Linked DNA regions of Homo sapiens: regions 2 and 3 are each linked to region 1. Evidence: fine-mapped expression QTL. A gene starts in region 1. Each other region holds a variant in brackets. All regions are shown on one strand. Distances are from middle to middle.

Region 1 (2,760 bases):
TTGGGAGGCTGAGGCAGGAGAATTGCTTGAACCCGGGAGGCGGAGGTTGCAGTGAACCAAGATTGTGCCATTGCACTCCAGCCTGGGAGACAGCGAGACTTCGTCTAAAACAAACAAACAAAGAAAAAACAACAACAAAAAAACGGGGTGTTGACCCCATTTGAAAGAGGCAAGTGAAGCCCAGTAAACACTCCTTGTTACAGTATCTGGTAGTTTCTACTTTCAGCTTTTGACTTGGAGTCAAATATTGAGGGTAGTACCTTGCTGCACCCTTATTTAGGATACCATCACGAAGGTATGTGGTGTGGTCTGTAAGTCATAATAGGGCTGACTTTATTTTTTCATGTTTATAATTTTTTAAATTGTATTTTATTTCAGATACAGCCCAATTTCTTCCAGGTCATCACCCTTTCCTAATTCCCACAGCTTTGATGATTTTGTGTGTCATCACTTTTTTTTTTAATTAATTAAATTAAATTTTAAACTGTGTACATAATAGATGTACATAGTTTCAGGGTACCTGTGATACTTTAATATATTTATAAAGATCAAATCAGTGTACTTGGGATATCCATCACTTTAAATATTTGTCTTTATGCTAGAACCATTCAAATTATTCTCTTCTAGCTATTTTGAAATATACAATAGATTATTGTAAACTATAGTCACCCTATAATCGTCAGCACTTTTATTGAGCATATATTATGTCAAGCACTAGCCTTTATGTTCATTCTTAAGTCTGACAATAACCTGGAGGATGAAGCAGACACTCTCATCCCCCGTCTACACATAAAACTAGGCCTTGAAAAGGTTAAACTATGCTTCCTGGATCACACAGCTGGCTGTCTGGACGCACAGCAGGTACTCCTCCACCAGCTGCCTCCCTTCAAAGGAGCAAAGAAAGTGCTCTGAAACCACCCTGCCTGAGTAGCAGCCTGCAGGCATTCCTTACAGCAGGAATTCATGTCAAATCTCAAACTGTGCACAAGGCTTTGTGTGAACCCTTCTGCTGGGAGTGGACACAGATCTCTAAGGGGTCAGGGACCCCCAGAAGGTTAAGAACCAGTGCCTGGGCAGGCTGTCTGCTTCCCCACTGTAAGTTTCTGGCGTTCAGAAGCCGGACGTTCTGACTTCTAGTCCCAGCTTTGGCACGACTTTTCTGAGGGACCTTAGCCAAGTCACCTCACCTATGGATCACGGATTTCTGTTCTCTTTTTTCCTGGCCTTGACTGTCTATTCATAATTATATTTTGCTTGGCAAGGATTCTTTACCATTGTTTGTATTTTTCCGTTGTTATAATGTATGCATTCTTTCTAAAAGCTGTCTGAAATCCTGCACGGAAGAAGGCAGAGAGAAACAGGAACAAAGAATAATAATGTTTTTCCAGGCCGGCTAACCTCCCTGGGCCTCAGTTTCCCACCTGTAAAACGACTAGGGTAGGCCATATGGACCAGGTGGCTTACATTCTCATAAGGCTCAAGACACAAAGCTAGCTACCAAGCAAGTTGGGACCCGGGAGGTCGTCGCATCCTGCCTTTCTGTCCCACCTCCCTTTTCTGATCCTCCCAGCAGCTGTTTCCTGCACCCCTCTCCAGCCCCATCCTGCTTGACCAGGCCCCAAACGCCCAGCGGACTCACCCGCGCGCGCAAGGTGCCTGCCGGCGCTCACGCACGGAGGTCGGCCGCCCGGGCAACAGCGCAGCCGGGGCAGGAGGGGCGCGTCGCCCAGCTCCCGGCACCCGCGCCGCTCCGGGTGGCTGTGCCCACCGAGGGCGCTGGCGGGCGCGGCTATGCCCACGCAGCTGCCTGCGTGCGTGCGCCGCGAGGGGGTGGCTGGTCTCCAGCCTTTGTTAATTGTCTTTCTGGAGCCAGGTTGTTTTCTGTTCGCTGCTCCCGGAGTCAGCCCCGGCCGGCTCGGAACCGTGCCCTGGCTGGCAGCCAACCCGAAGGATTGCAGGCGGAGTTTAGCGACGTGCCGGCACCCACCCTCCCGCGGCCTCTCATTAAGCCACCTTCTCCGCGGGCTCGTCATCCAGAAAACAGGAGCCGGCATTTAGGCCACCCGGTGGGAATGCTGACCCCGGTATTACTGGATACCTTTGCTCCTGCCCGAATCACCAAACTGTAGGGCTGGGCCTCAATTTAATTCTTAGTGTTGGCTGCCGAGGAGCCCTTGGTTCTTGCCCCAGCTCTCCTGGGAGCCCTGCACAACCTTAGCCAAGTCGGCCAGTCGCTTCCATGACATGACGGTGTTGGTCCATTCTTTCACTCTACTGGGAGCAAGACACTGTTCTGGGCACAGAGAACACAACAGTTAACACGATAGACAAGGTCCTGGCCTTATTGGGCTCCTGTGCAAGACACTAAACCCACCATTGAAAGTGATAGTTGCTATGAAACGCATGTAAAGTTTCATATCGGGGCAACCAAACCTTGTTTGTAGCGTCAGGAATGGACTAGATTAGCTTTTCTCATTCTGCCACTTCTTTTATTCTTATTTTCATTTTTAGGGCTTAATTTAGGGCTTATTATTTATTATTACTGCTGGTAGTAGTCATATTGCTTACTAAGGGCCAGGCGCTATACTAAATGTTTTACTTGTACTGTCTCAATTATCTCATTCACAATTTCTCTAAGAGATAGGTATCATTATTATTATCCTCATTTTCAAGAGAGAGAAACTTAAGCTACAGAGGTGAAAATAACTTGCCCATGACACACAACTACTAAGTGACAGTGCCAGTATTCGAATTCAGACT
Region 2 (2,760 bases), 45 kb before region 1:
TGGGGGGCTCATTCCCTACCGGACAGACGACTCCCTTTGATCAGCTATGATAGAGACTAAAAGTTTGTCCCTGGACTGGCATGAAAACTGCTTATCTGATGGAGCCGCCAGCTCCCATGCCCCTCTGGTGTCTGCCCAGAGCAAGAGCTGCTTCCTCTCCCCAGGACTGCCTTTCCTAGGAGGCGGAGACTGCCTTTCTCCTCTCCATGTGAGCCCAGTTCCTTTATGTGTAGCAACTAGTCCAGTGCTGTTCTGATTGCTGTCATTATGAATGGCTATCACTTCCTGAGGGTGTGCCAAACTACAGAGCAAGCATTTCATTACATAGTCTTCACATCACCTCTTGAGGGCAGCCAGTGATATTATCCTCTCCATTTTACGTTCAACCAGCCGAGCTCAGACTGGCTCCATGACTTCCCTGAGATCACACAGTCAGCAAAGTGGTGGAGCTGGAATCCAAATCCAGTCCTCTTGGCCTCGGGGGCCTTGCTTAATACCCGTTCTGTGGTTCCCACCTTAAGTCATGGAAGTGCTGTTTCATGATTTCTGTCTGATTTGTACCGCTTTCTTAATTTTTTAATTGACTCACTTTTTAAAACTTCATCTTGTACTATATACAATAATATGATTATAATCATGGAATTATGGACTACTTATATTTTTTCTAATACACATTAAAATGCTTAAGTAACAATTATAATACACTGTCTGAAGGGGGAAAAACTGTCTGTGGATCCCCTGACAATAATCTCAGGCACCCCTCATATTGTGGGTCACACACCCCTCTTCGGAAGATGCTCTCCTGGGCCATATCACCTGGATTCATGGTGCCACTTCCCTTCAGCCCAGTTACACTGGGGCACCCAGACCTCAGCAGCACTTCCCAAGGCCATGACCAGTATGGAGTGGGCAGGATGATCGCTCCCCTCATTCTGCACATCAGACTTCTGGCGGTGTAGCCAGGGTCCAGGCATTCTATCTCCGTGCCCATCTCCATCTTTCAGGGTGGTCCTGGAGTTCTCTCCATATAGCCCTGTTGACCTCAGTGGTCTGCAAGGCCCTCCAGGCAGGGGCCTTGTCTTATATGCTCAGCGCCCAGCACACCATAGGTGCTTCATG[G/A]TAGACCCTGCAACGAATGCCTCAATTCCTCTTGTTGGCTTTTCATGTCCCACGGAGTCACTCTAAACTGACTGTGCCCTGAGCCCTGTGTGTGTCACCTGTGCCTACTCCCATCCTGGAATGCCCAGCCAGACTTTGACCCACAAGAGTGCCCGGGTCTCTGCACCGGCTTCTGTGGGGTGGTTTTCCCCGAAGGAGAAGAAGGGCTCCCAAAGGCTCACGTACCCCCGGTGTCCACCAGCCAGCGGCCGCTGTTGCCTTTGGTGTCCTTGTTTTGAAGGATGGCCACGATTTGGCCCCGAGGCAGAGTCAGGTCCAGAGTCCCAGTCCCACTGATGTTGCTTGTCACCTGGTACAGCTTCCCAGGGCCATACCTGCTCAGGAGAGCCTGCACCTGGCGTTCAGACCCTGGAAGGAGCGGCTGGGAGAGGAGGAGCACAGACAGACACAAGTGCTTGAATAAACCTGTCAAAGCTGGCACCAACATTTGCTCACATTTTGACAGCCAGGAGTACTGGGCCTGATCCTAACTCTGCCACTGAAGGGCCCACCCTGATCAGGGCAACAGGGCCCTCACTAGCAGATGGCTGGCTCTTAGCAGCCTACGGCGTTTTGGAAGAAACTTCTAATTTCTGGGATTCTCTAAAATTCCAATTCAAGTTCTGAAATCTCTCAGTTACTGAACTCCTAGGATTGGGCCCTAAATTCTGCCCATACCGTCAGGGTAAGTTATCCCACAGCAGAATGCCCTGGACAGGTCTTTCAATTCCATTAGAGTGTGAGTTTCATGTGGGCACCAGACCTTATTCATCTGGTTTCTTAAATAGCCAGCCAGGGCCAGCACATGGCGGATTTCACATATGCAGGAACGAGGGCATGTAACCTTTGATTCCATGAGTTTTCAGTCCACAGGCATTTATGGAGCACCTGCCATTTACAGGGCACTGTGGAAAACTTTGAGAATGGTGTAGTAGAAATACAGGAGAGAGTTTTACCTAGACGAAATTGCCATCTAGCTGGAAAGAATGATTCGGTGGCACTTTCAGCTTATCCAAAAATCTCCTGGCATTTCCTGTTTTTCCATTGCATGATACTGCTTCCAGAAGAGTATCAACAAGGAGAGACTCAGGGATGCTTGTCCTCTTTTTGCAAAATCAATAAGAAACTAAATATGTTAAATATATATTTACTCTATGTCTTGAGAGAGGCGTGTGTGTGTGTGTGTGTGTGTGTGTGTGTGTGTGTGTGTGTGTGTTCACCATGCTCTATGTGGTTACTCCTTGTGGGGAGGTGCTGGGTGTGGGGAGGCAGGCAGAGATGCCCTTCAGGAACATTTGGCCACAGACTCTGCCACATCCTTGCCCCAAAGGGGATGGCGTCTCAGGATTTAGAACCAGGAGATCCCAATGTTTCTAAACAGGTCCTTAAACAGGAATGTAGAGACGAGGTAGTTTTCTTTGAGAACAGTGGTGTTGTGGTCATTTCTTTTAGGACAGTGATATGCATGTGAGTATAAGAGCCAGTGGTGTCACAAATGCTGGCCTTCTTTCTCAAGGCTGACCGGCCCTCCCTATGCAGAGAACAGCGTCACCCCTGGGAGGGCCCCCAAGGAGGGCTTGTAAAGATCCCATGAGGGCTGCT
Region 3 (2,760 bases), 59 kb before region 1:
TCAGCTAATTTTTGTATTTTTTTGGAGAGACGGGGTTTCACCATGTTGCCCAGGCTGGTCTCGAACTCCTGGACTCAAGCAATCCTCCCGTCTTGGCCTCTCAAAGTGCTGAGACTTTAGGTGTGAACCACTGTGCCTGGTCTGTGTTTGCATTTGTATTTTATGGTTGCTGTTCTGACCCATGACTTTTTCGGGGAGCAGGGAGGATGAAAAATGAAAATAAAAGCATTTAGAAAGATGATTAAAAAATTAAAAAACAAAAAAGTAGGGGGAAGGTGCACTCCCACACGCCGGCCAATCAGCTGCAACCGCACCATCAGCAGACCGGGGAGGCGCCTGGAGCCTGCAGTAACTCAAGATGGCCGACTGATCGCCAGAGAGTATTTGAGGACATGGTTACAGTTACGTTCCCAGGGGAACAACCTTTGGCCTCTTAAGACATCTACTTGCTTTCAGTTTTGAAAGAACTCAGGCAGCCATGGGGTATTTTTCAGAATTCCCGGCGGTGAAGGGTCAGAGCCATGGGCATTAGGGAGAAAGCTGAAGGCACAGCGGGTGTGAGTGTGGGGTCGCTGCCTGCAACACTTGGAAGAAATACGGGGAAGGGCGGGGGAGGGATCAAAACTGGCTTGTGTGGCCAAGGATCAAGTTGTTATTAAGCACTTTTATGTGCCTGACAGAGTGCCAAAGTCTCCCGTGATGTATCCTGTGTCCACATCCCAACAACCCCATCGGCAGGACTCTTTCCTGGTTTGCCCACAAGGAGGAAAGTGAGGAAAGTGAGGCGTCAGAGAGATGAAGCAACTTGTTTGAAGGCGGCCACACAGCTGGTAAGTGTGGGGACAGGATTTGAACGAGGGTATTTTGCATGGGAAGTCTGGCCTTCTGGCTACCACCCCACCTCTTCATCCCAAGACACTCTCCCAAGTCTGGCCCCACATGGCTCCCTAAAACCATGCTGTCCTCATATGGGAGGGTTTTAAGCAGCTCTAGGGCAGCCACCAGAGCCCAATACAAAGTCCCTTGCACTGACAGTCATACTCTAACCCTGTGCCCAGTTCTCAATGCTGCCTCCTGCTATGATCTCTGTATCTTTCATCGGCCTGATCTCTCCTTCCCCAGAGCTTAGTGCTTGAACCCCAACCAAAGATTGAAACCCTGCTGCCCACAGTCTGACCTGGCTCTGACCTCTGACCTGCCTGGACACTAGGAGATGCCCATTCCCGTGTCCCACGGCAGCTCCAACTGCCTGATGGACACCTGCTGCCTCCCCCACATCCCTGGGGAGTGTGCCCCAGAATCACCATGCCCTCCCAACTCCCGTGATCCTTCACCTGACTCGGCCCTCTTCTAGCTGGATCTGTGTCCCCA[A/G]TTCCAGCCCTGCCCCAGGGGAGAGGCCTGGGGCTCCATCCAGACCACTAGTCTCATGACAGCCCAACAGCGTGAGGCCCATGGCAGCTGGCTGCTGTTGAGACTTGTGTTTGGTCTTTTAGCTTGCAGCTCTTGAGAGCTTCCTATGTGCCAGGCATTGAATTAGTCCTGTAAAGTGGATTCCCTCGTTTAACCTCAAACAGCCTTGTGAGTAGTGAATAGATGCTGCAGTTATTGCTATTAACGTGCTGCTCTATTCCCACACCAGAGGCTCTACTGATGTGCCCAGGAGCCCTGAGACCCCAAGACCAGCAGCTTCTGCCCTGGCCAGAAGCCCCATCCCACTTCCCATTTCCCAAACCTGGGGCTCACTGCCCCTTCTGAGTAGGGGCCAGACACATGCTGCTGAGGCATCATGGCTAGAAAATTGTGTTTCCTCCTCCCCTCCCCCAGGGCTGTAGGGCCTGGCCCTTCCCCAAACCCTGGCTCTGCACTGACACAGTGCCCTTGGATTTCCTCTGTGTTTGTCTGCTCTGGGCCTGGCAGTAATGGTCTCAGCCAGCCAAGACTGGGGCAGCTCAGCAGACTACCACAGCCACTGATACTGGAGCATGACCAGCTCAGTTCTTCTGGGACTGAAGACATTCCAAGAGCTCCATGTAGGAATGGCTGACAGCCCCCTGAACCAGGGAAGGTGCAGACAGACCTAGAGATGATTTCCATTGTTCCCCAAGGGCTGGGCTGCCTGAGGGACCAGGTACCAGGGAGGTGCCAGGGATCCCATAGCACCAAGACCCAGCCCCTCCCTGCAGCCCTGGCTTCTGAGTGGTATTTTGCTGTCCAGTCAGAAAGCAGAAACTACTCTATGCATTAGAACAGAAGGAATTTGGGCTGAGCGCGGTGGCTCACACCTGTAATCTTTGCACTTTGGGAGGCCTAGGTGGTCAGGAATTCCTGAGGTCAGGAATTCGAGACCAACCCGGCCAACATGGTGAAACCCTGTCTCTACTAAAAATACAAAAATTAGCCAGGAATGGCGGCGGGCACCTGTAATCCCAGCTACTCAGGAGCCCGAGGCAGGAGAATTGCTTGAACCTGAAGGAGCTGAAGGTTGCAGTAAGCAGAGATCATGCCACTGCACTCCAGCCTGGGTGACAGAGCGAGACTCCATCTAAAAATTTTTAAAAAGAACAGAAGGAATTCATTCTGGGGAGTAGGTTACACAGGTGAAAGATCTGAGAAGCACCCCAGAGATGAACAATAGCAAAAAGACATTACAACCCCTCCACTGGAGGGATGCGGGGAAGATCCTAGTGTCTAGGATCTGGTGTCACCAGACAGAAACTGGAAGCACAGCCAGGCCTGTTTGATGGGACGTGGGACCACAAG

Which allele goes with the higher level. Positions count from the first base shown, and alleles are read on the strand shown. Sizes are in standard deviations (SD) of each study's normalised expression. Not every link is listed here.
In carriers of allele A in region 2, the expression in cerebellum of the gene that starts at base 1,766 in region 1 tends to be higher than with G alone (small effect, 0.35 SD a copy in GTEx).

The links. PIP is the estimated chance that this variant, and not a neighbour inherited with it, causes the effect. A credible set is the group of variants that fine-mapping cannot tell apart.
Region 2: its variant is the best candidate, but not a certain one, in a credible set for the expression of ARHGEF37 in cerebellum (GTEx, PIP 0.54).
Region 3: its variant is the best candidate, but not a certain one, in a credible set for the expression of ARHGEF37 in sigmoid colon (GTEx, PIP 0.79).

What each region holds. Positions count from the first base shown.
Region 1 is chr5:149,580,504-149,583,263 of GRCh38, reverse strand. It overlaps ARHGEF37 (Rho guanine nucleotide exchange factor 37), which reads right to left and starts at 1,766. Exons shown (of 13, transcript NM_001001669.3): 1 at 1,640-1,766. RefSeq lists a silencer at 1,716-1,895 and an enhancer at 1,976-2,105.
Region 2 is chr5:149,625,856-149,628,615 of GRCh38, reverse strand. ARHGEF37 (Rho guanine nucleotide exchange factor 37) reads right to left here. Exons shown (of 13, transcript NM_001001669.3): 11 at 1,345-1,540. Among named protein-coding and RNA genes, the nearest start is that of ARHGEF37, 46 kb to the right of the region's middle. The variant G/A (reference allele first, on the strand shown) is at 1,120.
Region 3 is chr5:149,639,069-149,641,828 of GRCh38, reverse strand. It overlaps LOC124901104, which reads left to right and starts at 348. Exons shown (of 3, transcript XR_007058990.1): 1 at 348-557; 2 at 681-830. The variant A/G (reference allele first, on the strand shown) is at 1,372.